Linked DNA regions of Homo sapiens. The protein of the gene in region 6 interacts with the protein of the main gene of each other region in a pairwise test. Each region holds a gene or a part of one and is shown on either strand. Other genes may lie near its edges.

Evidence for each region.
Region 1: the proteins of KAT7 (region 6) and CAAP1 interact in a two-hybrid assay, tested with the Homo sapiens proteins (one large-scale study listed by BioGRID and IntAct).
Region 2: the proteins of KAT7 (region 6) and DYNC1I1 interact in a two-hybrid assay, tested with the Homo sapiens proteins (one large-scale study listed by BioGRID and IntAct).
Region 3: the proteins of KAT7 (region 6) and KATNBL1 interact in a two-hybrid assay, tested with the Homo sapiens proteins (one large-scale study listed by BioGRID and IntAct).
Region 4: the proteins of KAT7 (region 6) and KCTD13 interact in a two-hybrid assay, tested with the Homo sapiens proteins (one large-scale study listed by BioGRID and IntAct).
Region 5: the proteins of KAT7 (region 6) and DDX11 interact in a two-hybrid assay, tested with the Homo sapiens proteins (one large-scale study listed by BioGRID and IntAct).
Region 7: the proteins of KAT7 (region 6) and RERE interact in a two-hybrid assay, tested with the Homo sapiens proteins (one large-scale study listed by IntAct).

The regions. Positions count from the first base shown.
Region 1 is NC_000009.12:26,840,244-26,844,707, forward strand, and holds the end of CAAP1 (caspase activity and apoptosis inhibitor 1), read right to left. Parts: intron 2,405-4,464; coding exon 2,058-2,404; 3' UTR 442-2,057; downstream 1-441. UniProt on the Homo sapiens protein: Anti-apoptotic protein that modulates a caspase-10 dependent mitochondrial caspase-3/9 feedback amplification loop.
Region 2 is NC_000007.14:96,033,892-96,038,355, forward strand, and holds part of DYNC1I1 (cytoplasmic dynein 1 intermediate chain 1), read left to right. Parts: intron 1-1,727; coding exon 1,728-1,861; intron 1,862-4,464. UniProt on the Homo sapiens protein: Acts as one of several non-catalytic accessory components of the cytoplasmic dynein 1 complex that are thought to be involved in linking dynein to cargos and to adapter proteins that regulate dynein function.
Region 3 is NC_000015.10:34,150,556-34,155,019, reverse strand, and holds part of KATNBL1 (KATNB1-like protein 1), read left to right. Parts: intron 1-335; coding exon 336-376; intron 377-1,950; coding exon 1,951-2,230; intron 2,231-4,464.
Region 4 is NC_000016.10:29,918,763-29,923,226, reverse strand, and holds part of KCTD13 (BTB/POZ domain-containing adapter for CUL3-mediated RhoA degradation protein 1), read left to right. Parts: coding exon 1-37; coding exon of another isoform or gene 38-91; intron 92-1,265; coding exon of another isoform or gene 1,266-1,373; exon of another isoform or gene 1,374-3,696; intron 3,697-4,464. UniProt on the Homo sapiens protein: Substrate-specific adapter of a BCR (BTB-CUL3-RBX1) E3 ubiquitin-protein ligase complex required for synaptic transmission.
Region 5 is NC_000012.12:31,100,999-31,105,462, reverse strand, and holds the end of DDX11 (ATP-dependent DNA helicase DDX11), read right to left. Parts: coding exon of another isoform or gene 4,437-4,464; coding exon 4,333-4,436; intron 3,631-4,332; coding exon 3,481-3,630; intron 3,221-3,480; coding exon 3,152-3,220; intron 3,037-3,151; coding exon 2,936-3,036; intron 2,528-2,935; coding exon 2,443-2,527; intron 2,147-2,442; coding exon 2,068-2,146; intron 1,887-2,067; coding exon 1,732-1,886; coding exon of another isoform or gene 1,657-1,731; coding exon 1,627-1,656; coding exon of another isoform or gene 1,430-1,626; 3' UTR 664-1,429; downstream 1-663. UniProt on the Homo sapiens protein: DNA-dependent ATPase and ATP-dependent DNA helicase that participates in various functions in genomic stability, including DNA replication, DNA repair and heterochromatin organization as well as in ribosomal RNA synthesis.
Region 6 is NC_000017.11:49,816,181-49,819,680, forward strand, and holds part of KAT7 (histone acetyltransferase KAT7), read left to right. Parts: intron 1-1,639; coding exon 1,640-1,831; intron 1,832-3,500. UniProt on the Homo sapiens protein: Catalytic subunit of histone acetyltransferase HBO1 complexes, which specifically mediate acetylation of histone H3 at 'Lys-14' (H3K14ac), thereby regulating various processes, such as gene transcription, protein ubiquitination, immune regulation, stem cell pluripotent and self-renewal maintenance and embryonic development.
Region 7 is NC_000001.11:8,810,177-8,814,640, reverse strand, and holds part of RERE (arginine-glutamic acid dipeptide repeats protein), read left to right. Parts: intron 1-4,464. UniProt on the Homo sapiens protein: Plays a role as a transcriptional repressor during development. May play a role in the control of cell survival. Overexpression of RERE recruits BAX to the nucleus particularly to POD and triggers caspase-3 activation, leading to cell death.

The DNA.
Region 1 (4,464 bases), on a different chromosome or scaffold from region 6:
GAGACGGGGTTTCACCATGTTAGCCAGGATGGTCTGTCTCCTGACCTCATGATCCACCCGCCTCGGCCTTCCAGTGCTGGGATTACAGGCGTGAGCCACCGCACCTGGCCTCTAGGTTTAAGATTTGAACAAGACTGAGAACCTTATAGGCCTTCAATAAATACCTCTGGGCTGATTATTTAAATGGCAGCATCAGATCGATACATGGTATTTTCCCATTACTTAGGCATTTCTAAAGCAAATATTCCCATTCTCTAACGCCATTCATTTTCAAAAAGCTCTCAAGTCTTTCAACATTTTAAAAGAAGATAAAAATTTGATTTTCCAAGGTAGGGAATTAAGTAGCCTCTAATTTATTCTGTTCATTCTACCTCACACATATACACTCCAGTCAAATGTCCTGTAAACCATTCTGCATAGAGTAGAACAGACACACAATGCTTCATGAAGGTGGAGACTTTAATCATCTACAAAGCCCTCAGACCTGTTTTACTTTATATGTTTAATCATACAGATGCCATCTACAGTATTTTGTAGTTAGTAAGCAGCAATAAAGTTTATTCTGTACTACTTTAGCATATTAACTATTACTTTTAAGTTGAAATAGAAAAATTATATCACTGTCTTTTCATCTTGAAGCAATAACAATGAACTCATAACTCAAATCTGTTTACCAGCTTAAGAGAAGCATTTAAAATCATATAGGCTTTTTCTATGCTTTATTAGAAAGATTTATGGAGGGGGAAAAAATGGTAGAATTATTCCAAGGCATGTTCAGGAACAACAACAACAAAAAGAATTTGTAACTGCAATTCCAGCGTTTCATAAATGTCCTCTATTTCCATTTAAAAACTCTCTAAAATTAACATAATTAAAGCAGCTAATAAAACACAATCCCTGCAACTTTTATATATAAGGAAAGTCCTCATACAGTATCAGTAGACCATGGCTTATAAATAAAATATACTGTATTTGTTATCAAATATAGAAACAACAGTTCCAGATTTATGTTTTTTGAAAAAATTAATTTATTTTAAGTTAAGGATCTCTACGTAAATTTATTTTGGTATCAAACAACTGCAATTAGTGATGGGGGGATAAAAGCATCCCTAATTGTGGAAGGATGGTAATTTATTTACAAAAACTATACAAAATTAGATTAATTATAACAACAACTTATCAAAGGTTCCTGAAATTAATTTTGCTTTTGAAAAAGTATCAAAAGTCTTCAGATCCAGAATGATAGCATTTTATTATTTCTGATTCATGGAATTATAGCACATCAGATCTTTAAGCAACTACATCAGATAAAATCCTAGATAATAAAATATTCTTCATTTCCTGACAGCTTGGAATGTAAATGAAAACTTGTTCCATTTTTATTAAAGAAAAAACCTAGAATAATGCATCCAATGGTATCAAATACCTGTTAGAATGGCGTGTCTGCTATAATTAAACATGGGCAATTAGTTCTACATAGTTAAAAATTGCCTTAAATTAATTCCTTCCTTTAATAAAAAAGTTTTTCTCAGTCATTTCAGATCTCTGTTATTCGGTTTTAACTAGGAAATTTGCATTTACATAAGGAATCTTCAAAATAGTATATATTTAAAAAGTGCATATAAGCAAAACTAAATTTCTCAAATTAAATAATTTAATATTGTATTGTAAAATACAAGTAGCCTTAAGAGAAACATGCTTCGTCAATCTTTTGCTTTTAGGTTTGGTGCCCAAACATTTAAAAATAAAGAAAAAAATACCACGACTCTTTGCTAATGGCTTTTAAGATTTGCAGACACAGCTAAATACTCATCTAACAAAGTATCCAGGCTATCCAACTATATTGCCATGAATTCATAAGACAGTAACACACATTTATAATATAAAAGTAGTCAAAAAAATAAAAAGAAACAGCCACAGGTAATTTAGGGCTAAAATGAGTCCTAATAAGGGTTACATGAGAAATAACATATAAGACCCCAAATAAATTTTAGATACAAAATTAAATGATGTGGCTTTGTTCAAACATACCTAAAATTCAAAATCAAGTTAAATACCTAGGCTGGCTTTTTTATATCACCAGCTTTCATTAGGGCTTTAATCGCTCTTGCCCTCATCTCAAGTTCTAGCAGCTCCAGTTGCTGTGCAGAAGGTTGAACATCTTCTGGTGGAGGAACAGCCAGGGTGGCTGCTTTGGGTTCGTTTGGGCTAGACTCTGCCAGTCCTAGAATCTCATTCACACTTTTCTCAATGTCTTTCTCCAGGTCATCTATCTGACCAGCTTCACTTTGGACTGTATTTTCTGGTGCCTCGGGAGCAGCTGCTTCTTCGTTGCATGGGCCTTCTATGTCGCTGTCATAAGCATCTGCATTTATACTGAGTACATCACTATCTTCCCCTTTTCCTGTAACCAAAAAAGGAGAAAGATCCATGTAACCTAAATACCATGGGTCACAATTTCCTTACTGTTTATAATTTAAAAACTGCTTTGATCCCACCTCCCACTATGGAGTCCCAAACACATTCCATAATCCCCATGCCACCCTCTTTTCCCCTGACTCCTCAACCTTCAAAGCAGATCTAATGTAATGTAAATTCAAATGTATTTTTCATTCTGATTTAGTAGAACATGGGAACATTAAGAAATTTCTTCCATCATATGCAGTACCCATGATCTATTTTCCTAATTAAAATGTCATAACATTTTTATCACAGTAAAGCTTCTGCACTACAAAATGAAAGCTGACATTGGAAATCCTCTGGATACAGTATGGCTTACTATTCAAGCAGTAAAATTTCATTCTAGAAGGTGTTTAAATACTTTGCTTTATAAACTACAAAAAAGAAAAAGTATCATCAGCAAGCAGGACAACATATGCATTGCAATTATCCCAATCTTTTCATACGCTTTTTCAAACACTTTGTTCCAAATCAATAAATTAAAGAAGAATGCCTAAGGCCATTTTCTAAGGTAAAATTTGTTTTAATGACGAGGATTTTAATTAACAAAGTTAGTTCACCATAATTTTAAAAAATGCATTTGTTATAAAACTTCTATAACTGATGCTAACAACATAAATAAACACAGATTATGGTTCTCGACCACCTTGTTCTTGGCATTGAATACTACTCAATTCCAGGCATCATTTGCAACTTTGAATACTCACTTATATTCCTAATTAATTTATCTTTTAAATATTGAATATGTTTTTTGTGTGTTTTTCTTGCATTTTCTTTTTTTTCTTTTTATTTTATTATTATACTTTAAGTTTTAGGGTACATGTGCACAATGTGCAGGTTAGTTACATATGTATACATGTGCCATGCTGGTGTGCTGCACCCATGAATATGTTTTTTTTTTTAAAAAGTCATGATCCCCAAAATGTTAGCTTTCCCTAATATAAGAAAGCTTTGATAGCGCTTTCCTTACAGTAGGGAAAGCTTCTTTACAAAACATAGATTGACAGATGGTAAATTCTGATAACAGACTGTACAGGAAGGACATAAACAATTATACTCCATTGGTTTTATAATCAATGATGATTTACTGACCTTCAGTGATCCTCCTACATGCTTATAATTGAAAAACCACCCCCATTCCAAAATTAAAGTGGAAAATAAAACAAAAAATTATTTTTGTGTCCATAAATAGAACTTGTAAAAATAAGATTATCATTTTATTTGATGGCAAAGAACATTTTATATATGTCCGCAAAGCAACAAATATTTCCAAATAGCATAAAAAACTACAGAAAATTGAATAAAACCTTTCAAGAAACAATATTTTATACAAGTATTCTAACTTGAGACTAAAATAGATTTAAGAAAATAAGGCCAGGTGCAGTGGCTCATGCCTGTAATCCCAGCACTTTGGGAGGCTGAGGTGGGCAGATCACCTGGGGTCAGGAGTTTGAGACCAGCCTGACCAACATGGAGAAATCCCATCTCTACTAAAAATACAAAATTGGCCAGGCGTAGGGGCACATGCCTGTAATCCCAGCTACTCGGGAGGCTGAGGCAAGAGAATCACTTGAACCTGGGAGGCGGAGGTTGTGGTGAGCCAAGATCGTGCCATTGCACTCCAGCCTGGGCAATAAGGGTGAAACTCCGTCTCAAAAAAAAAAGAAAATAAGTGCTAAGTTGTTCACAGCCTCAAAAAATTAACTTTAGTGTCTCCGAGGCTTTACCTAAAATTTAAAGTGTATAGTCACTGATTCTGAATAAGAAACTACAGGCTGTATAAAATATTTTAAAATACAAATTTTTGAAAAATGTGACTTGTTTTTCAGACTAGGGGTTGTTGCGAGATAATGAATGAAGAGCTGAATAATATAATGAGGGGGTGGAGAAGAGGTAAACGGTAGTTGATTCAGAGGCTTGATCAGACTCAGGTTCAATTTTCTGGTAAGAATATTTAGAAGTGACGTTGTGTACTTCCAGCACATAATATATAATTGCTTTTCT
Region 2 (4,464 bases), on a different chromosome or scaffold from region 6:
CCATGTTCCTTGGGAGGCTCAGGCAGGAGGATTGCTTAAGCCCAGGAGTTCGAGGTTGCAGTGAACTATTATCACACCACTGCACTCCAGTCTGGGTGACGGAGTGAGACTTTGTCTCTTGAAAAAAATAATTATTATTATTATTATACACACACACATGCACACACACAAAAGGAAATATGGAAACTGTGAAGAACCAACCTCCTTTAAGCCTCCACAAAATACGGATGTAAAGAATACTACGTTTTTTTAAAATAATTTTAGGGAGAAAAAGGAGAGAGTGCTAATAAGCTGCTTACAATTGAAGTTCCACTATTTTCGCTGATCTTTAACATTATAGAGGGCTGGAGGGATTGGTATTTTATGGCTTTGTCTTAAAATTCTCAGCAATGTTTTGTTTTCTTTTAAAAGCCTGAAGATTATAAACAGACATAAGAGCAAGCCCACTATTTAGGAATTTTTAATTGCCCATTTTGCTCATTACACATATTTATTTAGGTTAAAACCAGTAATATGGTGGCTCTAAGTCCGTTTGTATTAGTTTTAGCATGCTCACAGACTCCTGTGTCTATACAAAGATGGAGGATTTCGTGACATGGCTTCCATGGATGGCAGGGAGGAATAGGGGCATCCAACAGTTGGCCTGGTCTTTCTCTCTCCCAAATGGGTAAAGGGACTTTTCCTTCCTTGCTGCTAATTTTAGTGATGAAGCAGATCATTGGATGATCCAGTTATCTGTATGACATAGTCACAGCATCCTCTCCTTTATCCCAGTTGCTGATGTGCACCCTATGTGTGGATATCACAAACTTTGAACACATCACAGGATCAGAATCAGTCTGTGTTGCTTAGACTGTTAGCTTGCACTTTCAATTTAATGGACTCCTTGGCTGAAATAGTTTATTTGCACAAGAAAGACTAAACTCTCAAGCAACTATAATGATATGATACCTCAGAATGATTTTTTAAAAATTATTTCAGATGCACAAAATAGGCTATTTGATGTAAATAGCCAGAAATACTCAGGGATATTAGTTATAATTGATTATTCTTTTCTGTCATTAAACTTAACTCAGCAGTATATCTTTTAAGATTAGGAATCTTTAATTCTCAATTTTAAAAAATCATATTATAAAATAAAGACTCCCATTTGCTATTTTAAAGACGTATTTAAATATTGTTCTTTTCAGGCTTATAGCCTATTCACCCAATGGCTGCCCTGCATGAAATCTAGTCCCTGTTGAAATCTGGTTTTTATGACCTGAGTGACAACTTTCTGGTTTTAGTCCATGGAGGACACATACTCCTGCTTTGACAAATTTGCTTAGTACATCTGATATTAATACATGTGTATTCTCACAAACAATTGATTTTGAAAATGTTTGTAAATACAAGGGTATTGTGTGTTTTATTAAAGCTTGGAGCTGACAAGTGTAACCATTATTATCTTTAGTTTCTGCACCATTAGTTTCAAAATTCTCACCTGTCATCTTTGCCTGACTTAAGAAGCAGCAGCACATGCTGATGAAATCCAGCCGGCTTGAAACCAGAGATCCACAGAAGCATGAATGTCAGGGGCAGTAAAGCATGGTTTCTGGCACAGCCGGGGTCTTTTGTAACGCTGTGTGAAAAGCAAACACATGATTTAGCCAAATGATTTTTCCGTGCTATCTTTGGCATGGCAAGGAGTTGACAGATGGAAATGTAACCACACCGTGTTTTGGTAGGAGAGCATGGAGCTGGTGTACAATAAGTCCAAGCCTGTCGCTGTTACCGGAATGGCTTTCCCAACGGGAGACGTCAATAACTTCGTGGTTGGCAGTGAGGAAGGTACAGTCTACACGGCTTGTCGTCATGGAAGGTGATTTTTCTGTTTCTTTACTGATGACATGTTCTTCATTTCCGAAAGTCTGTTATCACATTCTGGATTTTAACCACCTTGCATTATGAGAAAGCATCTCTGGAAAAATGGAAAGCACGACTTCAACTCTTCATTATCTTAAAGAGCTGCATCTGCTCTGGTCATTAGCTGTTCATAAGACTGTGGTGGTTCACACTGCCTTGAGGGAAAAAAGCTCGAGCTTCTGAGCCTATCATAACAGACCACTTGCACCTTCCCAGCATCTCCGCATACCTTCAGGGTCTAGCCATGTGCCCATCAGAGATAACAATCCCCAAATATTTCTTATCCCTCCATGCCTCAATGAGTTTGCATACTCAACTTCTTTTACCAGTTCTAGCATTTCTCCCTTTTTGGCCTGGTTAATTCCTCCTCATCATTCAAGAGCCAGCACAGAGATCATTCCATGTGAAACATTTTCTGACTCTTGGGCAAAGAAAACCACTCCCACCTTTAAGTCCCATAGAATTTTCAATTCTCTTATTCATTCACTCTTCCAAGGAATATTTACTAAGAACCTACCATGTGCCAGGCATCATCAAAAGGATACATTAAAGAACAAGACAGACCTAGAGTTCATATTCTAGTTGAGGGTAAAATACTAATAAGCAAATAAATATATAGTTTAGGATGGTAAGTGCAATGGAGAAAATTAAAGTAGAATAAGTGGGATAGGACTATAGGCTGTCAAGTTGACAATTTCATATATTTTCCTTATGCTTCTATAATAGCATTAATCGTATTTTAGTTTATTCATTCATCTGCCATTTTTCTCTTACTACATTATTTCCATTTCATCTTTGATTTCCTGCACAGTACCTAGGACATAGTAAGTGAGGAGCTAAAAATATATATTGGGGATAAAGAAATGATATATAATGTAATCCATCCAATCTAAAGAAGTGCCTTAAAAGCTTTCCTCCCAGTCAGATGGGTCAGAACAGAGTGAGTCACACAAACCACCATGCAGTTCCCAGGTGATAAGAACTCTACCTTAACTGAGAGATTCACAATGCCCCTGGAAAAGAGTTGTCAGTATAAAGTGGAATCCAATAGTTTGGACTAGATTGTAAAATTGCATGCAAAACTTAACAGGTGGCCTCATGTCTTTTGAAAGGGTCACTATGTTCACACTGGTGCTTAATTTGTCTTTTACTTTAGTAGTTCTTATTCCATTGATTTTTTTTCATCTCTTGCACTCATCCGAGGCTATTAAGATTTAATGAAGAACCACAAATTGTTCCAAGTTCATATCCCTGTGTTTTTGTGATTTGTAGAAATGACAAGCATCCATGGCTCAGCTATGTGACTTTTTCCATTCAAACTATACAAGCTGTTATGTTCCTGCTGTTCTGCACGTAGAAACAAGCAGTATTTGTCCCCTCACATGATTCAAAGATGACTTAGGAAGATATGCCTCACAGTCCATTCCCAATGATCCTCCTTCATAAACCCTGGCTAAAACCACACATTAAAGCTTTATCAAAGCATAAAAATATTTGATAAAGTTATTCATTCATAAATATATTTGTTGTATGCCTACTTTGAGCAAAGTGCATTGTTAGGTTCTGCAAGGCCTGCAGACGTCATGTAAACCTGGTTTCTCTCTTCAAAATAACTGATGACGGTGAGAAAGATAAATACACAAATATCTGGAACATGAGTAGAATGTCTTAAGTGGCATGAGAGGCATAGAGAGTATAGTAGGCCAGACCTGGAGTCACAGCTTTATCTATATGCGTATTAGAATCAACATGGCATAGGTTCAGTTAACTTAACCCATGGTTTTACCTAGGTCCTTGATTATCTACGAAGGCTATAGAATACATTCATTGATAATTTCCAGATTTTTTTCATTGCTATAAAGTGAATAACATTTTACATGATGAACATTCTTGTTCTGTGGCTACTGTACTTTCTAAGCACTATCAGAATATGCACTTTGGTTCAAAAGAAGGGTCCCTATGGCACACACCACAAATCTTTTTACAACAAGCTGAATTTTGCTTTACATTGGTCCATCCATCTGAAATATAAAATACAGACCTTAGTAACATTGTAACGTAGCAGGCATTGGCTTTGTAGTCATTCTAAATGGGTCATATAGGTCTATGGGGGAGAAGCAGGGGATTGCTATTTTTCACCTAACATAGAGAAGGTGCAAATCCACTTCCATAAATTAAACAAGGTCCTCATTTTGCACCCTATAAATCCTTTCAGGATGCTGTTAAGAGCAAGTGGAGTCTCACCAGGGGCCACTTCAAAGATCAGTTCCTCGGGTTCATTAGAACAAATTTAAATGATCATGTGTGGAACTGCTCTTAGCAGTTTCACTGGGCATAATTTTTGAGTGCCTGTTACATGGAACACGCACTGCCACACTTTGCTCATGATTCCAAATTTTGCTAAGCACATTGACATTTATTGGTGCTCCAGAGGCCCAAATGTTTTAATAACTGAGCTCGTTTTTATTCTTAGTGACATAATATTAGGATTCTACAATTCCTACATATTTGTCATATTTATAACCTCATGCACATGAATATTTTAAATATAGCATTTTT
Region 3 (4,464 bases), on a different chromosome or scaffold from region 6:
CCTTAGTCACCTGCACTGTAACCATCCTTCCTGCCTAAACTGCTCACCCCGCCACTCTGCCTCATACCCAGATAGCCTATCAGAATTAGTTTAGACTGTGCGGTCCAACCCTAGCCAATAGGGGAATGACACAGTAGTAGGGACTAGCTGCATTAGGGATAAGAACCCCTTCTCCTCCCATGCCCGGTATGCTCTTGCGACCACTCCAGGCACGATTGGCACCCTTCTGCAGAAGTAAATTGCCTTGCTGAGAAAGCTTTTTGCCGGAGTGCTGATTCTTCTTTGCGGCACCAAGCATTTGTTTCTAACATCAACTATCTACTTTCATTTTTCAGGTTAAGAAATCTCCAAAACAGTTGGCTGCTTACATAAATAGGTAAGAGTTTCTTTAAAGTTTGTGGGGAACAACAAATATGAAAGCTGGGTAAGGATGACAATAAGGGAAAAATAAGCATTCTTTTATCATAATAATAATTAACTTATTGTCAAACAGCTTCTTTATGCCAGTATCTGCACTAATAAACACATCAATATTGTCTCTGCTCCTTACAACAGTCCTACTCTATAGCCTACTCTATAGATAACATTAACCCTAACAGTTGATGAGAAAACTTAAGATCAGATAAGTTAAATGATTTGTTCAGAATCATATAGCTAGAAAAGTGGTAAGAATGACATTCATTCTCAGATCTGCCTAACTTCTAAAGGCACTTTCTACAAAACGACTGGTTTTCAAAGTGTGATTTGAGGACCTGCGGGTCCCTAAAGACCATTCATGGAATTTGTGAAGTCAGAATTACTTCCATAGCAATACTAAGACATTGACTGTCTTCATTTTCATTCTCTTGTTTGAGGGTACAATATAATTTTTCAAGAAGCTATATGCCATTTGATATCACAGTAGATTGAATGGAGAAGCAGAAATGAGAACCCAGCTGTCTTTTGTTAAACCAGATATTAGAGATATATAAAAATGTAAAACAGTACCATTCTTCTCACTTTTTAAAAAATTATTTTAGAAAATATGGGTTTTGGGTAAGATATTCCATGTTAATATGTAATTAGTCTTTTTTTGAATGAATTAACAAATGATTTAAATTTTGTTTTAGTTTTTACACAGTAAATATCAATAGATACTATTCACATAAAAATTATTTTGGCCATGGCTCACACCTGTATTCCCAGCACTTTAGGAGGCCAAGGTGGGTGGATCATGAGGTCAAGAGATCAAGATCATCCTTGCCAACAGGGTGAAACCCTGTCTCTACTAAAAATACAAAAGTTAGTTCAGCATGGTGGCGCGCGACTGTAGTCCCAGCTACTCAGGAGGCTGAGGCAAGAGAATCACTTGAACCTGGGAGGTGGAGGTTGCAGTGAGCTGAGATTGTGCCACTGCACACTAGCCTGGCAACAGAGAGAGACTGCATCTCAAAAAAAAAAAAAATTTTTGAGTCATTAATTATTTTTAAGAGAGCAAAGCATCGTGACACTAAAACGTTTGAGAACCACTGTATTAAACGATGAGGCTTGCTCTATCGTGTTCTTACTCAAATAAATCAATATACTTCAGCTTAATTAAATTTTAAAATATTCACACTTGCAGTCTTATTTGCCACTTTGTTAGAAAAAGATCAGGTTTCTAGAAAATGTTGTGGTCTTCTTACTCCCAGAATGGCCTTTAATATTTCATTTTTAAAAGCATTCTGGTTATTATGTCTGTCTTCATTTTTATTTGGCATAAAATGTCATCCTTTACATTGTCTTCCAGATAATTTGTAATTTCCCTTTTACTTTTCTCTTCAACTCAGAATTAAGATTTTTAAAATTCTATTTATTTCTAATTTTAGTGGATTACAATCACCAAATATAGCCTATTAATTCTCTGTTTAAAAACTTTTAAAGGATTTCATATGGTTCTTTTTCATTTAAGAAAATAAATTCTTTTTACAGAACAGTTGGACAAACTGTGAAAAGCCCAGATAAACTTCGTAAAGTGATCTATCGCAGAAAGAAAGTTCATCATCCCTTTCCAAATCCTTGTTACAGAAAAAAACAGTCCCCTGGAAGTGGGGGCTGTGACATGGCAAATAAAGAAAATGAACTGGCTTGTGCAGGCCACCTGCCTGAAAAATTACACCATGATAGTCGAACATATTTGGTTAACTCCAGTGATTCTGGTTCTTCACAGACAGAAAGCCCATCATCAAAATATAGTGGGTTTTTTTCTGAGGTAAGTCTTTTCTCTAACTCATATCTAGTTTAACTTTGTTCCTGTTATAATCTTGATTTTTTTCTTTGCCATATTCCACTAGCAGAATAATTTGTCACCTATTGAATGTAGACTTATTTGAGTCATAGTAACTCCCTGAGACAATTTTCTAGATTAACCAAATTTGAATTAATAATTTATTCCATTTCTCTAAGATGGGATGAAATGCTTAGCAGGCTGCTAAAACTATCCAGAATGACAAGTTAGCCAGTAGAGATTTAAAGGAAGGGAAAAGGAGAAATCTTGCCTAAAAAAGTGGAGCACTAGGCCGGACACAGTGGCTCACGCCTGGAGCCCGAGGTGGGTGGATCACGAGGTTAGGCGTTTGAGACCAGCCTGGCCAACATGGTGAAACCCTGCCTCTACTAAAAATACAAAAATTAGCCGGGCATGGTGGGGGGCGCCTGTAATCCCAGCTACTCAGAAGGAGGCTGAGACAGGAGAATCGCTTGAACCCGGGAGGCAGAAGTTGCAGTGAGTTGAGATCACACCATTGCACTCCAGCCTGGGCAACAGAGCGACTCCGTCTCAAAAAAATAAAAATAAAAAGGACAACATCTGCAGGCAGATCACCTGAGGTCGGGAGTTCGAGGCCAGCCTGGGCAACATGGTGAAACACCCTGTCTCTACAAAAGTACAAAAATGAGCCGGGCATGATGGTGGGTGCCTGTAATCCCAGCTGCTTGGGAGGCTGAGGCAGAAGAATCACTTGAACCTGGGAGGCAGAGGTTGCAGTGAGCCGCGATCATTCCATTGCACTCCAGCCTGGGCAAGAGAGCAAGACTCCATCTCAAAAAAAAAAAAAAAAGTGGACCACCGAAGCCAGTTATCCAGACACATTTTGCCGGGCTCTCAATATTGCCTGGTTAAAGCATAGTTCAGGCAAACCTGCTGTGGTTTGCTGCTCTTCTGGCTCAAGCAAAACTGGTTAACAGACTCAAAAGCGTTTTTGAGAGTGATAGAAATATTCTAAAACTGGGCCTGGCCAACATGGCGAAACCTCATCTCTACTAGAAATACAAAAATTAGCTAGGCATGGTGGCACACTTTGGGAGGCCAAGGCAGGTGGTCAGGAGTTCAAGACTCGCCTGGCCAACATGGCAAAACCCCATCTTTACCAAAAATACAAAAATTACCCAGGCGTGGTGGTGCACGCCTGTAATGCCAGCTACTTGGGAGGCTGACGCTCAAGAATTGCTTGAACCCGGGAGGCAAAGGTTGCAGTGAGCCAAGATCTTGTCACTGCACTCCAGCCTGGGTTACAGAGTGAGATTCTGTCTCAAAAAAAAAAAAAAAAAAAAAAAAAAAAAAAAAGTAGGCAAAGGACACAATAGACACTTTTCAAAAGAAGACATACATGTAGGTGACAAGCATATGAAAAAATGCTCAGCCTAAATGCTAAACCTAAAATCACTCATCATTAGAGAAATGCAAATCAAAACCACAACAGGATATCATCTCATACCAGTTAGAATGGCTATTATTAAAAAGTCAAAAAATAATAGATTCTGGCAAGGTTGTGGAAAAAGAACACTTATACAATGCTGGTGACAATGTAATTTAGTTTCAGCCATTGTGAAAGCAGTGCGACAATTTTTCAAAGAACTTAAAACAATCTTATTATTGGATATATACCCAAAGGAATATAAAACATGCTACCATAAAGACACATGTATGCGTATGTTCATCACAGCACTGTTCACAATAGCAAAGACAAGGAATCAATCGAAATGCCCATCAATGGTAAACTGGATAAAGAAAATATGGTGCATATACACCATGGAATACTATATGCAGCCATAAAAAGAACAAGATCATGTCATTTGCAATCACGAGTGAACCTGGAGGCCATTATCCTAAGCGAACTAATACAGGAACAGAAAACCAAATGCTTCATGTTCTCAGTTGGAGTGGGAGCTAAACACTGTGCTAGTGCATATGGACACAAAGATGGGAACAACAGACATGAGGCCTACCTTAGGGTAGAGGGTGAGAAGAGAGTTAGGATCAAAAAACTACTTATCAGTTACTATGCTTATTACCTGTGTGATGAAATAATCTGTACACCAAACCCCCACAACATGCAAACTACCTATATAACAAACCTGCACATGTGCCCCTGAACATAAAATAAGTTTGTTTTGTTTTGTGTTTTGAAACAGGGTCTCTCGCTCTATCACCCAGGCTGGGGTGCA
Region 4 (4,464 bases), on a different chromosome or scaffold from region 6:
GCAGGGCCTGATTGAGGACTGCCAGCTGGCGCTGCAGGTGAGGGCCTTCGGAGTCCCCATGCCTATGTTCCTGGGAGAGCTGCCCAAGCAGGTATTAGAGCAGAAAAAAGGAGATATGGGGTATGGCTTGGAGAGCCTGGCTTTGGCTGGCCATAACCCCAGAGAATTTGAGGTGCCATCTTCTGCATCCCTGCCGCCTCAGGCAGCACCCCCACCCCAGCCTCATGCCAGGACCTTTGCAATGGTTAAATAGCTGCTCTCTACTTCCCACTGTTCCTATGCAGCCAGTCCAGCTGTTACACTCGCACCTGAGTAATTATCTTTCAGCACAACCCCGATCTATTCTCTCTCTTGCTTAGAAATCCTAAATAGCTCCCTCATGTCACTAGGGAAAAACATCTAAATTTAAATTGAAATATAATAACCTCTGCGATCTGGCCCTATCCTGGGAGGCAGCATTCTCCCATGGCTTCCGCCCCCCAGGAGCTTTCTAATTCTTTTTTTTTTTTAAACAGTGAAATTCTTTATTCAAATGAAATCTCACAGAAGCAGGGCCACTCCCAGTAAAACAGGGTTGGGGATTCTAGAGACCCCACCTGCTAGGCTCCACTTTTGTGGACCCCTTAGGGTTCTGAGGAGCAGAGCTTGGAAAGTGAAGCCAGGACATAAGGGTTCTGTGTCACCTCTGTCACAGCTGACTCAGTGACCTTCAGTGAGTCCATTCCTACCTCTGGGATTCTGTCCTCGGGTTCCGAAAGACAGGGAAGGGAGAAAAATAAGTACAAAGTAGTGAGTTTTACATAAAGCCTGTTATTCTGTTCTATTTTTACAATGTTAAAAATGTCCTTTCTTTTATGTTACAATAGTAAGAGAAGATTATAAAAGTTTCTTTTTGAATGCCCTTTATAGATTAAAAGGTTGCCTCCCTGAACAACTTTTGTCTCAGGGAATACTTACTGGTTCTTGAAGCCCAAAGGTGTAGAACTCCTTTGGACAATATCCATGTTTTTCAAACTTTTTGATTGCCTGCCATAGGGAAAAAATGCATTTTAGTACTCATTATATATAACTGAAATAACAGTTCTATAAAAAGATACTTTTAGTGAAATGTACTCTGATAATCTTTCTTTTTAATGCTGTTTGGGACCCATTACTTATTTCATGACCCATTAATAAATTACCACTTGCATTTGAGAAACATTCATTGTACTAGATCTTGGAAGTGCATTCCTGCTCTGTAGCATTTTTGTTTTGTTTTGAGACAGAGTCTCTCTGTCGCCCAGGCTGGAGTGCAATGGCGTGATCTTGGCTCACCGCAACCTCTGCCTCCCAGGTTCAAGCAATTCTCCTGCCTCAGCCTCCCAAGTAGCTAGAATTACAGGCGCCTGCTACCACGCTTTGCTACTTTTTTGTATTTTTAGTAGAGACGGGGTTTCACCATGTTTGTTAGGCTGGTGTCGAACTCCTGACCTCACGTGATCCATCCGCCTTGGCCCCCCAAAGTGCTGGGATTACAGGCGTGAGCCACCGGCCTGTAGTTTTAAATTTACTAATGTTAAAACTAAAGTTTTAAAACCCGGCCTGTAGTTTTAAATTTACTAATGTCATCATGTACCCACTGTGTGTCAGGAGCAATTCTGCTATCTGCTTGTGTATACATCTTGTATCCTTGTTTGACGTAAAAAGAAACGCGAGGGAGCTTGGAAGACGTGTCCAAGGTGAAAGAGCTGGGAAGCAGCAGAGCTCAGATTTGACCCCAGGCTACCTGACTATCTGACCTTCAGCCTCCCAAGAGCTGTACTTTTCTATACTCCTGCTCTCTCCTTTCCAGGTTCCCTCTGCACCTCACGCAGCTCAGCACACTCCTCAGTGTGTGGCACTTCATCAATATTGGTCTATGCAAACCTTTTGTCTTTTAGTTTTATTTCTTTCCCTTCATTCCCAGTCCCCTGCCTACTTTCCTTTTTCCCAGGGGCACCCATCCAATTTTAATGTTTTGATACATATGCTCGAAAAGCTAAAGCATTGTTCTGCATATGTGTGCATTTTAAATGTCCATAAATGGCATTGAAGCTGTGAATCAGTTTCTGTTGCATTGTGTTTTTTTAATTCAGCACTTTTTTTCAAGATCTATTCATGCTGCTCCAAGTACATCTAGTTCTTTGCTTCTAACAGCTGCAGAGAAATCTGCGGTGTTCATTCACCATATTTTGTTCATACATTCCCCTGAGGTTGGAGACCTAGATTGCCTTCCAGTTCCTGCCCCTACAAACCGTGTCACCATGAGCATCCTGGTACATGCTCCCTTCTGATTCTGTGCCAGTCTCCTGTCATTGTAGCTGGGAGTAGAATTGCTGGATAACAGGACACCTGCAAACGGCGTTTTAGTAAATATCATCTAATTGCTCTCCCGAATGGTTATAATACTTTATCCTCATAATGAGCAGTGCATAAGAGATTACATTTCTGCATGTCCTCATCAAGACATGGCATCATCCAGCTTTCTAATTTTGCCAATCCAATGAGTGTAGCGTGATCTCATTTTCATTTGCATGCCTCTGATTACTAATGAGGTTCAGCATCTTTTCATATACTCACTAGTGTTTTTTTGTTTCCCTTCCTGTGAATTGCTTATTCATGTTCTTTACCAGATTTTCTGCTTTTTTCTTTTTCATGTTGCTTAGCAGGAGATCCTTGCATATTTTAGTTTAGTTCCTAGGGATAATTAAGCCCTACTGCATATGGGTATGTCTTATACATTCCCTAGGGCATGGATTATATACATAACAAATTAACCTCTAAGCCTGTAGCATGGGACTATTTACCTACTGTTCTCAGCAAAGTTCAGAAAACACTCAAATTATTTGCTGTTTTTTTGTTTTTGTTTTTGTTTTTCTTTTTTTGAGGTGGAGTCTTGCTCTGTCGCCCAGGGTGGAGTGCAGTGGCGCGATCTTACCTCACTGCAACCTCCCTCTCTGGGGTTCAAGTGATTCTCCTGCCTCAGCTTTCCGGGTAGCTGGGACTACATGTGTGCACTACAATGCCTGGCTAATTTTATCATATTTTTGGTAGAGATGGAGTTTCGCCATGTTGGCCAGGCTGGTCTCGAACTCCTGACCTCAAGTGATCCACCTGCCTTGGCCTCCCAAAGTGCTGGGATTCAGGCGTGAGCCACCGTGCCTGGCCATATTTGCTGGTTTTTGAGATTCAGATGAGGAACTTCAGTTGAAAAAGTCTGTTCTAGATAAAAATTTCTAGTCAATGTAGATATCGCCAATATTTTTTCTTAGAATGTCACCCACTTGTGGCATCTAGCATTGAATGGAAATCCTTGATTTTTTAAAATTACAAATAACCATTGATTATTTTAAAGCAGTATTTATTAATTGTAGAAATTTCAGAAACACAAATAATCTAAAAAATAAAAGCACCAAATATTCTTCCAGGTCGTTTCCTGTGTGAGAGTATGTGTGTGTGTGTGTGTTTGCTTGCCAAAATACAATCGTGTTGTATGAAATGTTTTATAATCTGTTTTTTGTTGTTGTTAATAATTGCCATCTTTACATGTCAATAAATTTTTATTTAATATCCAGTCCAGGGCATACTCCGGTTTCTCCAGTTGTTCCAGAAATGTGTTTTTACAGCTGGTTCATCAAACCAGGGTCCAGTCTAGATCTTCACGTTGCATCTGGTTATCTGCAAGTTAACAATGGAAAGCATGACTTTACAAATAGTTTCATGTAATAATGTTGAAGAGATGATAAGAGTTATAGGTATTCTATGGCACGAATGTAATTACTGGTTCAGGTAAGGATTATCATTGATAGGTAACTGCCTTAATACAGTTACCATAATAATACCATAAGCATTACTTTATTACATAAGCCAAATAATACCATAAGCATTACTTTATTACATAAGCCAAATAATACCATAAGCATTACTTTATTACAATCCAAGGGGTCCCTTTTTCCTCACGATGCTGGCTTGTTAAAGAGACTGCCAGTTGTCCTGCACAATGACCCGCTTTCCAACTTTGCCTGGTTGTTTACTCCCGGTATCGTTTGGTTTATTACCCAGCCTTATCCTTAATTTCCTGTAAACCAGACTGTAGATTTTAAATGACTGATATTGGGTGGGCACGGTGGCTCACGCCTATAATCCCAGCACTTTGGGAGGCCAAGGCAGGTGGATCACTTGAGGTCAGGAGTTTGAGACCAGCCTGGTCAGCATGGTGAAACCCCATCTCTATTAAAAATACAAAAATTATGCCAGGTGCGGTGGCTCATGCCTGTAATCCCAGCACTTTGGGAGGCTGAGGCAGGTGGATCACAAGGTCAGGAGTTCAAGACCAGCCTGGCCAACATGGTGAAACCCTGTATCTACTAAAAATACAAAAAAATTAGCCAGGCCTGGTGGTGGGCATCTGTAATCCCAGCTACTCAGGAGGCTGAGGCAGGAGAA
Region 5 (4,464 bases), on a different chromosome or scaffold from region 6:
CCCACTCCGTGGCTTTCCTATTGCAGTGAGAGCCGTAAGCCAAGGCAGGGAACTGATGTGGGATCTCTTCAACAAGCTGGTCCTGAGACGCAAGGGTAGGAGGCAGGGCCGCTGTCTGCCATGGGCTGTGGCATCGTTAATTCTCTCTTGCCTTTTTCTTCCTGTGTTTAAGTCTCTGGGGCCTGGGGAAACCAGTGCTCCCCACAGACCTCCCTCACTCACCCTTTCCCCTCCAGCCTTTTCACCTCTGGGGCTGGTGAGGGGCCGGGAGGAGAGAGCCCGTATGTCAGACAACAAACCGTCTCTGCTAACCCCCAGCAGCCACAGGCAGAGGAAGAAGAGGACAACTGGAAATCCTAGCGGGCGCCGCCATGCCTTCCTCCCCTAAACCCAGACTCTAGCCATGGCCCGGACGTGGACACAGCCAGAATGGGATCCTCAGCCCTGCTGCCCTGGAAGGGGCGGGGATGAAACTGTCCCAGGTCTGTGTGGAGACCACCTTCGGGGAGCGGGAGGCTGGCTTGAGGCCACGCAGCTGGGGTGGGGGCTTCCGTCTGCCTGTGCTCCATCGGAGGATGGCTCCACCCAGCCCCTGCACCAGTGCGCTCCTCGATTCCCTAAAGAGGCTTCCAGAGAAAACAGCAGCACATATCAATAAAAAACTCAGCAGAAACCAACAGCACACTTTTATTTAAGGACCTATAGCTGTGCAGGATGCAAACATCTGGGCATCAGTGACTTTCCTCCTGCCCCCGTTTGTCCCTGATGGTGGCAGAAGATCCCAGCTGACCACAGCCCCTTTCTCTGGGGTCAGAGGGAGAAGACAGGCGCAGTCAGCAGGGGCAGCTGTTGCAGGTGGGAGGGATATTTTCCCACAGGAACAAAGGTCTCCGTGATGACACGGGGTCTCTATAGTCATGTTGAGAGCCTAACGGCCCTTGGCATAATTGCTGGTGTTGGGGTAGAAGGTGTCTTGGAGTTTGCTCAAGTGGTTGAGAGGGAGGGAGGTGCCATAGACTTGGAGGAACTGGCACGAAGCCAAGGATACAAATCCAGGCAGGGCTGTGGGACAGGATAGGGAGCAGGGCCTTCTACTGAAGGAGTGACTCAGGAAGGAGGAGGGGAAGGTGACAAGCCCCTGGGCAGGAGCCCTGTGGCCATGGATCATTTTAAATTGAGACCAGAGAGTGAGCAGTCCAGGGCAGCTATAACCTTGGCTAGAAAGGGCAGAGGCAGATGGGCCTGCTCCATCTCGCCTCTTAAGAAGGTGGGCAGGACGGAGATGCCACAGTGGATGCCACAGCTGCCACAGCCTCCTGCGGAGACCAGGAAGGAAGCCTGGCTCTCAGCCATGCAGGATGGAAAGAAAGATTCTATTCCAGGAGGGGAGCTGCCCTGGAACGCCCCAAGGACAGCCAGGACCCACTGTTCATTCAGGATTCCCCCATTTTCTCCTACGGGAGCTAACGCCTGTGCCTGGGTCCTGGCAGCACTCTGGACTCCACACTCTCCTCCTGGGTTTCACCTTTGTAACAGGATCCCCGCAGACCACGCCCACGACAAACACTGTCTCCAGCGGGCAGGACAAAGGAAGGGCACGGCGCCAGGCAGTGGTGTGGTTGCCCATCAGGAAGAGGCCGACTTCTCCCGGTGAAACTGGGCAGACAGAAGGCAGTGAGAAATGTGATCTCGGGGTGGGGAGGCTCTCAGAAAGAAAAAGGTAGGACTGACCTTCTGCACAGCAGCAATGGCGGGGCCAAAGGTAGCTTTGACCTCCACACGGGCTCGGATCCAGGCCGGCAGCTTGGCCAGGACAGGGGGCCGGGCATATCGCTGGTCCAGGAGCACTACGCTGGCAAAATCCTTCTGGTGCCTGATGGCCCTGCCTGCATAGGAACAGAGGCTGGGGCTCCGAGCAACACCTGCCTCCCCCCTACAGCACATTCCCACGGCGACCCCCTCCCCTTCCTCAGACTTATATAGGAAACAGGGCAGGCAACCCCTCTTTCCTGTTCTCCCTTTCTCCAGCCCCCATCTGTCCACCCAGCTGGAGGCAGCCAGGCTCACCTATGGACTGGTTGACGGCCTTCATGCACAGGTTCTCCACCAGAGCCTTCCCTGGGGGTGCCTGGCCGGGGGCTCTGGGCTGGGAGTGAAGGGGAAGACCCATCAGGACTGTTCCCTGCCTGCAGCTCCCCCTGGGAAAAGACCCTGCCAGGCTTTGGAGCCAGACCAGGAGGCTTCGTGGCCAATGCCAGCAGCAGGGGTCCAGGTGACATCACAGGGAAGATCAAGAGGGTGTGGAGGGGCATCCAAGCTTCCGGAGGGGGCAGGAGACGCCAGCGCAGCGGGGAAGGCCTGGCTGTATCAGCCCTGGGGGTGATGCCACTCCCACCCACTGCCTACTCTCCTGTCACCCTCTGTGACACTGGGGTCACTCACGAGGGTTTGATCCAAGTAGGCCATCTTCTCCTGCAGCTCTGCAGACCTGATGTTGGGGAAGGGCATGCCCACCATCACCACACACCTGGGCGGGGGAGACAAGAGCCCAGCAGGTGGACGTCAGGACCTCCCGGGTCATCACCCACGTCACCAGCTGCTCCGTTCTACCCCTTCCCTCAGCCTCTCCGACTGTGATCAAAACTCAGCCTCTCTCCACTCTGTACCTACCACCTGGAGAGGGCTTGTTCGGCTGAGAGATCCCGTCTAGGCCAATTGACTGGGTCCTGATACAGCAATGGGTAGCCTAAAATCCAACTGCTCTCCCAGGACCAAACCCAGAGCTGCTGAGCCCCTCCCTCCAGCTGGCTGGTCTGAGCAGTCGCAGCCCAGCTGTGGGCTCTAATGGCAGCAGAGAGCAGGCAGGGGCCCAGCTGCTGGGAGTGAGGGCCGGCCATGTATCACGGCCCAGGAGACGAGCAGAACCACTACTTACCGGCCTAGGTTGTCAGAGAAGTTGATCCCTTCACTCATCTTTCCTCCAACCACAGAGAGGAGCAGGGCCCCTGTCACCTGGCCTCTCTCCTGGCCACAGGCCTGTAGGAGAAACCCAGACGCTGAGTTGCTGAGCCAAAACTTGGATGACACCCACAACGTTTCCAGCTGCCACCCCCACACGATCTCAGACCCAAGCCCAGCATGACGCCCGCACCTGGATGCACCTGGAATATGCCAGCAGCACCTGCTCCACCTGGTGTGCGCTCTTAGGTTCCTGGAATATCTGAGAAAGACAGAGGACATTTCCCAGAGACAGGTTCAGGGTGCCAGGTCTCGAGTCTGCTCGTGGCCTTGTGTTTTCTGGCCAGGGGACTGGAGAACCTCACAGCCAGGGACTTTGGGGGAAATCCTCTGTAGTCAGGGACTGGGAGCGGTGGGGATGAGGAGCCAGAAGCCTGTCCTGACCCGATGAGCACGAGAGCTCCCAGGAGGACTCAGTGGCACTGTCCTCACAAGTGGGAAGGCTGCCGACAGGCCACTCACCTTCTTCCTGGCAGCCAGACGGCCCAGCAGGCCACCCTTCTCCCAGTGGGCATGGACCTGGCGCAGGTACTCGTAGGAGGGGAAGAAACAGACCACCCCTCCAGGAACCACACCGCACAGGTTACAGAGAATGCGACCCACCTCGTCCATCTAAGGAAGGAAAGGAGGGAGGGAGGGAGCCCCCATGGAGCAACCCCTCAGCCACCCACAAACCGCGTCTTCACCTTGAGACTCAAAACTGAGGAGAGACCCTCGGCAGGACTACAGCCAAGGAAGAGGACTTGGCTCCCCTGGGTGGGAACCACGGGGTGGTAGGTGCCACCTCCCACCAAACACACCCAGCCGCTGCTGCTGACTGCGCCTTTCTGACACATGTCACAGCACTAGCGTCCCTAGGGGGCCTCCCTATTGCCCTGGCACTGAGTCCTCCCTTCTTCTGTCCAGGGTCCTGATGGGCACCACAACGACAATCAGGGGCTGCACACCCCAGGCACACCACAGGAGATGCCCCCAAGCCCCACATCCCTACCCCCGGCAGGGGCAGATATAACCAAAGGGCAAGAGAGCCAAAGGGAACTAGCAGCTTTCTCCTGTGTGAGGCGTCCTCAGAGGATGCCTGGAGGTTTTATGAATACATATTTCGCAGCCTAAGGCGTGAGGGGCGGGGAAGCTCAGACCTTCCTCCATAAGCATCTAGATCGACGCCGCTCATTCTGTGTGGCTCTAAGCGGGTGTCCCTGTGCAATTTCCCCAACACTGAAAACACTCAGGGTGGGCCAGAGCGCCCCTGCCCCAGAAAACCCTTTGCTGCCTGAGGCCAGGCTGTGGTGCGGCGAGCTGGCTGGGACTGACCATCTGAGGCAGCTCTCTTTTCTGGAACGTGAATTCCAGCGGCTGGTTGGAGATCCCGCTGCAGATGACGAGGGGCAGGATGTTGTCTGGAGGGATCACGTGACCTGGTAAGAGCCAGGGAGGGGCCGAAAA
Region 6 (3,500 bases):
AAACCATAGGCGCCCCTTTGTCTCAGCTGGGCAATTTGCAATTCTGAGAACCTGTAGCCTAGGAGAGACTCATCTCTGTTGTTTTCTTAATCCCAACAGGAACTCCCCTTTTGCTAGGTTTCCTCTGCACTAAGAATGAAAATAACAGTGAAGAGGAATAATGGAAAAGGCTGTTGTCAGATGTTTTAGAATTAATCTTTGACACAGCCAAGTTTGATACATTGGTTTTCCATTCTGATATTTATTTAGAGCTAGTTTATACTGAGTTGCTGTCCTAGGCAGAATTTTTAACAACTTTGCTTGAAGAAAATTCTGGTGATTGAGTTTACCTCTGATATAACAGATTAAATGTGTTCAGGGAAGCTCAGTTTTAAAGTGAATCTCGTCTTCACCCCCTTCCCCCTTGTATTAAAAAAAAATTGTATCAAATACTAGACTTGTTGAAAACTTGGCAGAGGCAGGGTTTGCTGGCTACCCTTGGCTGGGATGGGCTGTTACTGCTGCTGGTTTTCTCTATCCTATTCTGGCATGGAGCATTTCCTGGGCTAGCCTTTTACAACTTTACACCTGGTTATGCTTACAAATTATACTTTTGTAGCCAACTCAGAGCCACTGAATGGAGATGGATATCCGAATTTTTTTTTTTTCTGAGACAGGGTTTTGCCCTGTTGCCCAAACTGGAGTGCAGTGGTGCCATCATGGCTCACTGCAGCCTCGACCTTCAGTGCTCAAGCGATTCTCCCACGTCAGCCTCCTGAGTAGCTGGGACTACAGGCATGCCACTACACCCATCCCAGAAATATTTTCTGCCTTCTAGAGTTTAGATTCTAGAATTATCATGCACATTTCAAAAATATTTTTTAAAGGGCCTGTTTTTTTTTCTAAGTGACCATTGTGGATATATTTCACGGAGATTCATATAGCTTTATAAAAGCTTCTGCAGATAAGTAAGGCAGATTCTAAATCAAGTTTTTTGTTTAGTTTTAGAATACTTTATAAGGGTGGGGAGTTTGTATCTGTGATGATTTTCTTTATAATTCAGTTTGGTCTAGGCTGATAAAAATGAAGTTTCCAAGGTATCATTCTGGTGAGGCCCAGAATGTGGGAGGTAGCAGAGAAACCTCTCTTTTGAGACCTGTGCTCTGGGCAGTATGGGTAGTAAGTTTTCTGTACACCTGTGTGATTTTTCATGTAGCTCTCTTTAGTGTAAATTCTCATGGATAGAAGCCAAATCTGTCTGATTTTTTTCATAGCCTAGCGTGGTGGCATGCACACACACTTTTAAAAACAAAGATAATATTTATTTTTTTAAAAAGGAGTTTCGCTCTGTCTCCCAGGCTGGAGTGCAGTAGTGCGATCTCGGTTCACCGCAGCCTCTGCCTCTTGGGCGATTCTTCTGCCTTAGCCTCCCAAGTAGCTGGGATTACAATTGTTTGCCACCACACCTTGCTAATTGTTGTATTTTTAGTAGAGATGGGGTTTTGCCATTTCGGCCAGGCTGGTCTCGAACTCCTGGCCTTAAGTGACCTGCCTGCCTCAGCCTCCCAAAGTGTTGGGATTACAGGAGCCACTGTGCCCTGTCTAAAAGCAAAGATAATAAATTCTGATCCTCCTTTGACTTTTGATTTCTTGGCAATAGGAGAAGTTAAGGCTGCAAGGCCAAATCACAGAGGGAAGCAACATGATTAAAACAATTGCTTTTGGCCGCTATGAGCTTGATACCTGGTATCATTCTCCATATCCTGAAGAATATGCACGGCTGGGACGTCTCTATATGTGTGAATTCTGTTTAAAATATATGAAGAGCCAAACGATACTCCGCCGGCACATGGTGAGTTGTCTTGGGTTCCTCTGCCTTGACCATGATGGCAATAAGCTGTAGGATCTCTAGATTTTGCCATAGCGATGGCATCTGTTCAGGCACCTTCTCAGTGGTCCTCAGCAGTGGGATGAAGGCATAGGAAATGACAGGCCACAGCTTAAGGCGGGGTATAGAGCCTGAGGTATGGCTTGTGCTGGGTGCCACCCAAAGCAGCTGAGGGCCCTTACCCACATCCTGTCATGTACATCTTCTTGTCTTTTGTTCTTGCTGCCTACTGCTCTTCATTTCCTCCTTGGAATATGAATTACCTCTGCCCACAGGTTTTGTGTGTCCCAAACTAGATGAAAATACAGACTTCATTAGGCACAGCAGAGACAGCATGGCTCACCTTCATATCCCTAGCAACTAGTGTGGACAACTGATGCCCAAGAAGTATATGTTGAATGGGTACTTATTAATATTTAATAGTGATCAGCCTGTGACAGATTATGAAAGTAGCAGAGTGGGTCCTTTGGTGCCTTCCCCTCTTTTTCCTAATAAAACAGGTATAAGGAGTTGAATCTGTTATTGTTGACAAATAGGTTTACTAGATTTTTTGCAGCTTCAAAAAAAAAGCCATTTTTCCCCCGCTCTGTTACAGAATAAGCTTTGTCTTAAGGGGAATTTCTGCCATGGAGCAAGGGTGCGGAACAGGGGAAGGAGTAGAGATTAGCCTTTCAGGCAGAGAAGACTTTTTCTTGTTTTTTTTTTTTTTGAGAGGGAGTCTTGCTCTGTTGACCAGGCTGGAGTGCAGTGGCGCGATCTTGGCTCACTGCAACCTCCGCCTCCCAGATTCAAACGATTCTCCTGCCTCAGCCTCCTGAGTACCTGGGACTACAGTCGCACACCACCACACCTGGCTGATTTTTGTATTTTTAGTAGAGACAGGGTTTCACCATATTGACCAGGATGGTCTTGATCTCCTGACCTCATGATCCACCCACCTCAGCTTCCCAAAGTGCTGGGATTACAGGCATGAGCCACTGTGCCCAGCCCTTGTTCTCATAATCACAATATAATTTGGCTCTAAGGCCTCTGGGGTGTCTCTTTTTCCTTCCCCTTCCTTTTTTATTTCCCAGGATTTCCATATGTTGAGCATCTATGACCCAGGTTTCCTGTGATTTCTGTCATTATACTCTTCTCCCCAGTTTGGTTGGTGATAACTGCTTTTTTATGTTCCCAGTTCAGGAGCATGTGGTCTGTAAGTTCAGGGCCCAGAACTGTTGCTTTGACTCAGGTTCTCCAGACCCTGGCACACTTGACTGCATAGGGCTAGAGTCATGGAGGGGAGGTGATTGGCGGCGATTGGTAGAAATATCAGTGCACAGGAAATAATGGGGTCAGAAGGTGGGGCACTGATACAGATGGCAGGCCGTGGAGATAAAGTAAAATGGTTTTACTGTGTGAAAGCGGGTATTTTTATTGATGTGAACTGCTTACCATTTATGCCTTTTTTCCTTTTCGTTTCTGGTTGTTGAGTGACACAAACCAATGAAATAGCCAAAAGGGCAAGAAATAGTAATAGAAGGAGAAAACAAAGAGTCTGAATAAATCTGAGAATCAAATAAACATTCTGAATATTTGAAAATCTTCCATATTATATGATATAAAAATCAGATTTCAGGAAATACCTAATTTA
Region 7 (4,464 bases), on a different chromosome or scaffold from region 6:
TTTTCTTGGGATTTAAACCAGGTAGAGGGGTAGAGGAGGAGTTGAAGGAGGGAAATCTCACTAAAATCGGCAATTTTGCAAATGTAGTGGCCTTGCATTGCAGTAGTGTTGTTTTCAGTAGTCTTATAAAGTCTGATAGGGTGACTTATTGTATGGATTAGATAAAGAATTTAAAATTGGAAGCCAGAGAAAATGTGAAATGAGTGTGTACACAAATTATCATAGAAGAGGGTCAAATTGTTGCCCAAAGGCTTGTAAACTAAGGTGCAGTTTCAGAGATAATCTGCTTAATAAATGTCTCAAAGGATTTTTATTTTCACAAATCCTGGCCCATCTCAGTTGTTCTAATGTAATGAACTATTAGAGAGGTTTGCAGTGGTAAAGGGGACTGGGTGTGTAGGATAAACATCTGTTCCAGACTGACTGCTTCTAGGAATGTGACTTCTGATTCACTTTACTTTCAAAACTTCAAGAGTAATCTCTAAAGTTGTGTATCTTTTACAATGAAATGTGAACAGTTCAAATGTATTATTTTCTCAGTGGGAATGGATTCAGGGGATTTCAGTTCAATATATTCTCCATCAGTGTTTTGTCACAAGGAAACTAGAACTGAGAACCAATTCACAACAAAAAGGTAATCCAAATCAAGAAATAAAATGTACCAGTTACCTTTTCAACTTTGATTTACTGGTCAGTCGAAAAAGCTTTTAAAAAATAGGACAGTAAGGCCTAGTGCGGTGGCTCACGCCTGTAATCCCAGCACTTTGGGAGGCCAAGGCGAGTGGACCACTTGAGGTCAGGAGTTCGAGACCAGCCTGGCCAACATGGTGAAACCTCGTCTCTACTAAAAATACAAAAATTAGCCTGGCACTTTGGCGCGTGGCTGTAATCCCAGCTACTTGGGGGGCTGAGGCACGATAATTGCTTGAACTCAGAGGCAGAGGTTGCAGGGAGCTGAGATTGGCACCACTGTACTCCATCCTGGGTGACACAGCGAGACTCTGTCTAAAAAAAAAAAAAAAAAAAGGAAAAAATAGGATAGTAAACACTGTCAGGTCCTGCAATAATTATGTGTAATACTGAACAGATACTGAACAGAAATGTTCCAGGTGCTGTAAAAACACACATATAAGAATATAATCTGTGCCCTTCTAAAAACCTGTATATGCTGAATATTATCATGGATTTAGTAAGCATTCATTACTTAAAAATTAGTTTCAAATATCAGTGATCAAAAAAAATTTAAGTAGTAAAATAAGTTGGACATACCAAGTTCTTTTGAGAGTAGTATGCTTTCCTACTAAGCTACTTTTGGCAGCTACTTTTGCAGTCGATTTAAAGGTTAAGATAGCAGAAAATTCAAATGTTTAAGTGAGTCATTAGTGTAACCTAGCTGTGAACTTCGTTACACACACATACACACATCCTGAAAGAAAAGCTATTGTTTTACATAATCAGTTTCTGATAATGCTGTGCTCTAGTTAATTACGGGATTTCTTTTTTTACTACCAGGAATTCCTCTTGAATGATATTTAAGTGATTGTTGAATCATATTTGTGTGATTGGTATCCTGATAATTATTCTGAAGTTGAAGCTCTCCTTGTCCTATTTAAGTGTGATTTTGCCGAGCCTTTTGGCTTATGTTTGGTTTCTTGTCTAACAGAGTTATAGTTTGTGTGTGTGTGTGTTTTTTTTTTAAATAATGGAGGAGAAATGAGCATTTTAAATATGTGTTAGAACATTGTTAAGATTGCATAGGCCAATTTAATGAACATTTGAACACAACTCAAGTTCAAATACTAAATATATTTACTAGCTTCAAGTTTGGGTTGGAATTGTGATTTGTATAGCTAACTTGTTGGTGTGCCAAGTAATATAAGATGTACTGTGTGTCTGTACATTAGGTAACTAGGTCAGAGAGTACAGTTAATATAAGATGCTTTTTTTGGTAAAGTGGTCTGTGCCAGTGTAAAATTATTATTATTATTATTTTTCGAGATGGAGTCTTGCTCTGTCACCCAGGCTGGAGTGCGATGGCACGATCTCGGCTCACTGCAACTTTGCTTCCCAGGTTCAAGCGATTTTCCTGCCTCAGTCTCCCGAGTAGCTGGGATTACAGACATGTGCCACCACACCTGGCTAATTTTTGTATTTTTAGAAGAGACAGGGTTTTACCATGTTGGCCAGGCTGGTCTTGAACTCCTAACCTCAAGTGATCCACCTGCCTTGGCTTCCTAAAGGGCCGGGATTACAGGCGTGAGCCACTGCACACGGCATATTTTTAACTGGTAAAATTTGCCAGTATGTCAGCAAGTGTGAGCAATATATTTAACTGTGAAAATTTTCCTTATATGGTTAGTTATAAAATGATGTGGCCTCTAATTCATAAACCACTCGGTATTTGAGGAATCCTCATACCCTATTTGTCTTGGGTATTTGCATCAGAAGTCGAAGCCATGGGTTTTATCTTAATTTTAAAGTAGTTATATACATGACTTTTAAGGACTTTGGTTAGGCTGTTTTTCATTGCAAGGAACAGAAAGTCTTCCGAGTCATCTCAAGTTGGGGAAAAGTAGAACAGAAATTTAAGCCGTACGAGCCAGGCCTCACCTAAGAACAAAAACCCCAGGTCTGCAGTGCCTCATACATACTGGAATACTGTCAGGGATATGGGTCCCACCCAGCTTTAGCGACCAGATACCTTGTTGCCTCCTCAGCAGGAGGAGTTTGTGGCGCCTTACCCTAGTGCCATGGCCCTGTATATGAATGTCCAGGCTGTGTGTTGCAATAAATATACCACCCCAAAGGGGACAATATTAATGTGGTTGGCCTGGACTAACCTTAAAAGAGAGCTTGTGAGGAAGCATGGCTGTGCAGCATCTTCAGACAGTCCTGCAGCAGCAGGGCAGAGCTCCTCCTACAAAAACCCATTCTAGCTCACGCAGCCATGCACACACTTAGCAGAGCATGCACGGACACATTCATTGGCACCTGTATATGTTCCCTAGGCTCCCAGAAGTCTGATTCTTTTTTGAGAGAGGGTCTCGCTCTGTTGTTCAGGCTGGAGTGCAGTGGCATGAGCATAGCTCACTGCAGCCTTGAACTCCTGGGCTCAAGTTATCCTCCCTCCTTGGCCTCCCGAGTAGCTGGGACTGGGACTAGAGGTGTGTACCACTACACCTGGCTAATTTTTTTTTGTAGAAATCAAGTCTTGTCATGTTGCCCAGGTTGGTCTTGAAGTCCTAGGCTCAAGTGATCCTCCTACCTTGGCCACCCAAAGTCCTAGGATTACAGGTGTGAGCCACCATGCCCAGCCAAAGGTCTGATTCTTGACCTTCTTCCTGCTTCTGGGGTGGGAAGCAAGGGAGTACAGTGATGAAGGCACTCAGTGTGTGTGGGGTGAATACAGTTCAGGGGGAGTGTGAGCAGATGAGCATGTGGGCATATGTCTGTCTGTGTGAACTGCCTGGGGAGGCACTGGAAATGTTCTCTGGCAGGACCTGGCTATGCTGGGGAAGTATATCCACACAAGTGGATTCTAGGCGTGAGCCACTGCGCCTGGCGGCTATTGTTGATTTTGATAGCTTATTCTAACACCTTATTTTCCTTCAAGAGACTTCATAGTCATAACTCGTAGTCAGTTATGATCCTTTTTTTAGGTGGTATCACTTTATTACATTTGTCTTATTCTCCTTTTATTTTCTGTGACTCTGCCCGCCTACTGACTACCTGTCTACCTACCTGCCTACCCAAGTCAGTGTTTCCCGAACTGTATTTATGGCTTCCTAATATGCTGCAAGTATTTTAAGTGTGGGGTGAAATACGTTTATAATGCACATGAGCTCTTTAAAGCCTCAGAAACATTTTATACTATAGAGGGTTTTTGTTTTTCATTTTCCTCCCTTACCCCAAAGAATACCTGTTTCTTTCTCATGAGATACTCATGGGATAGATACTACTATTCTAGTTTAATAGAACACAGTTTGAGATGCACCTGTAAAATTAATTTTTTTTAATTTAAATTTAAATTTTTTGAGGAAAGGTCTTGCTCTGTCATCCAGGTTGGAGTGCAGTGGCGCAATCTCTGCTCACTGCAGCCTTGACCCCCTCGGGCTCAAATGATCCTCCTGCCTCAGCCACCTGAGTAGCTGGGACCATAGGCATGCACCATCACACCTAGCTAATTTTTGTATTTTTTATAGAGACAGAGTTTTGCCATGTTGCCCAGGCTGGTCTTGAACTTCTCAGCTGAAGTGATCTACCCACCTTGGTATCCCAAAGTGTTGGGATTACAGGCATGAGCCACTATGTCTGGATTTATTTTATTTAAAAATAACTTTAGGCCAGGCGCGGTGGCTCATGCCTGTAATCCCAGCACTTTGGGAGGCCAAGGCGGATGGGTGACCTGAGGTCAGGAATTCAAGACCAGCCTGGCAAACATGGTGAAACTTTGTCTCTACAAAA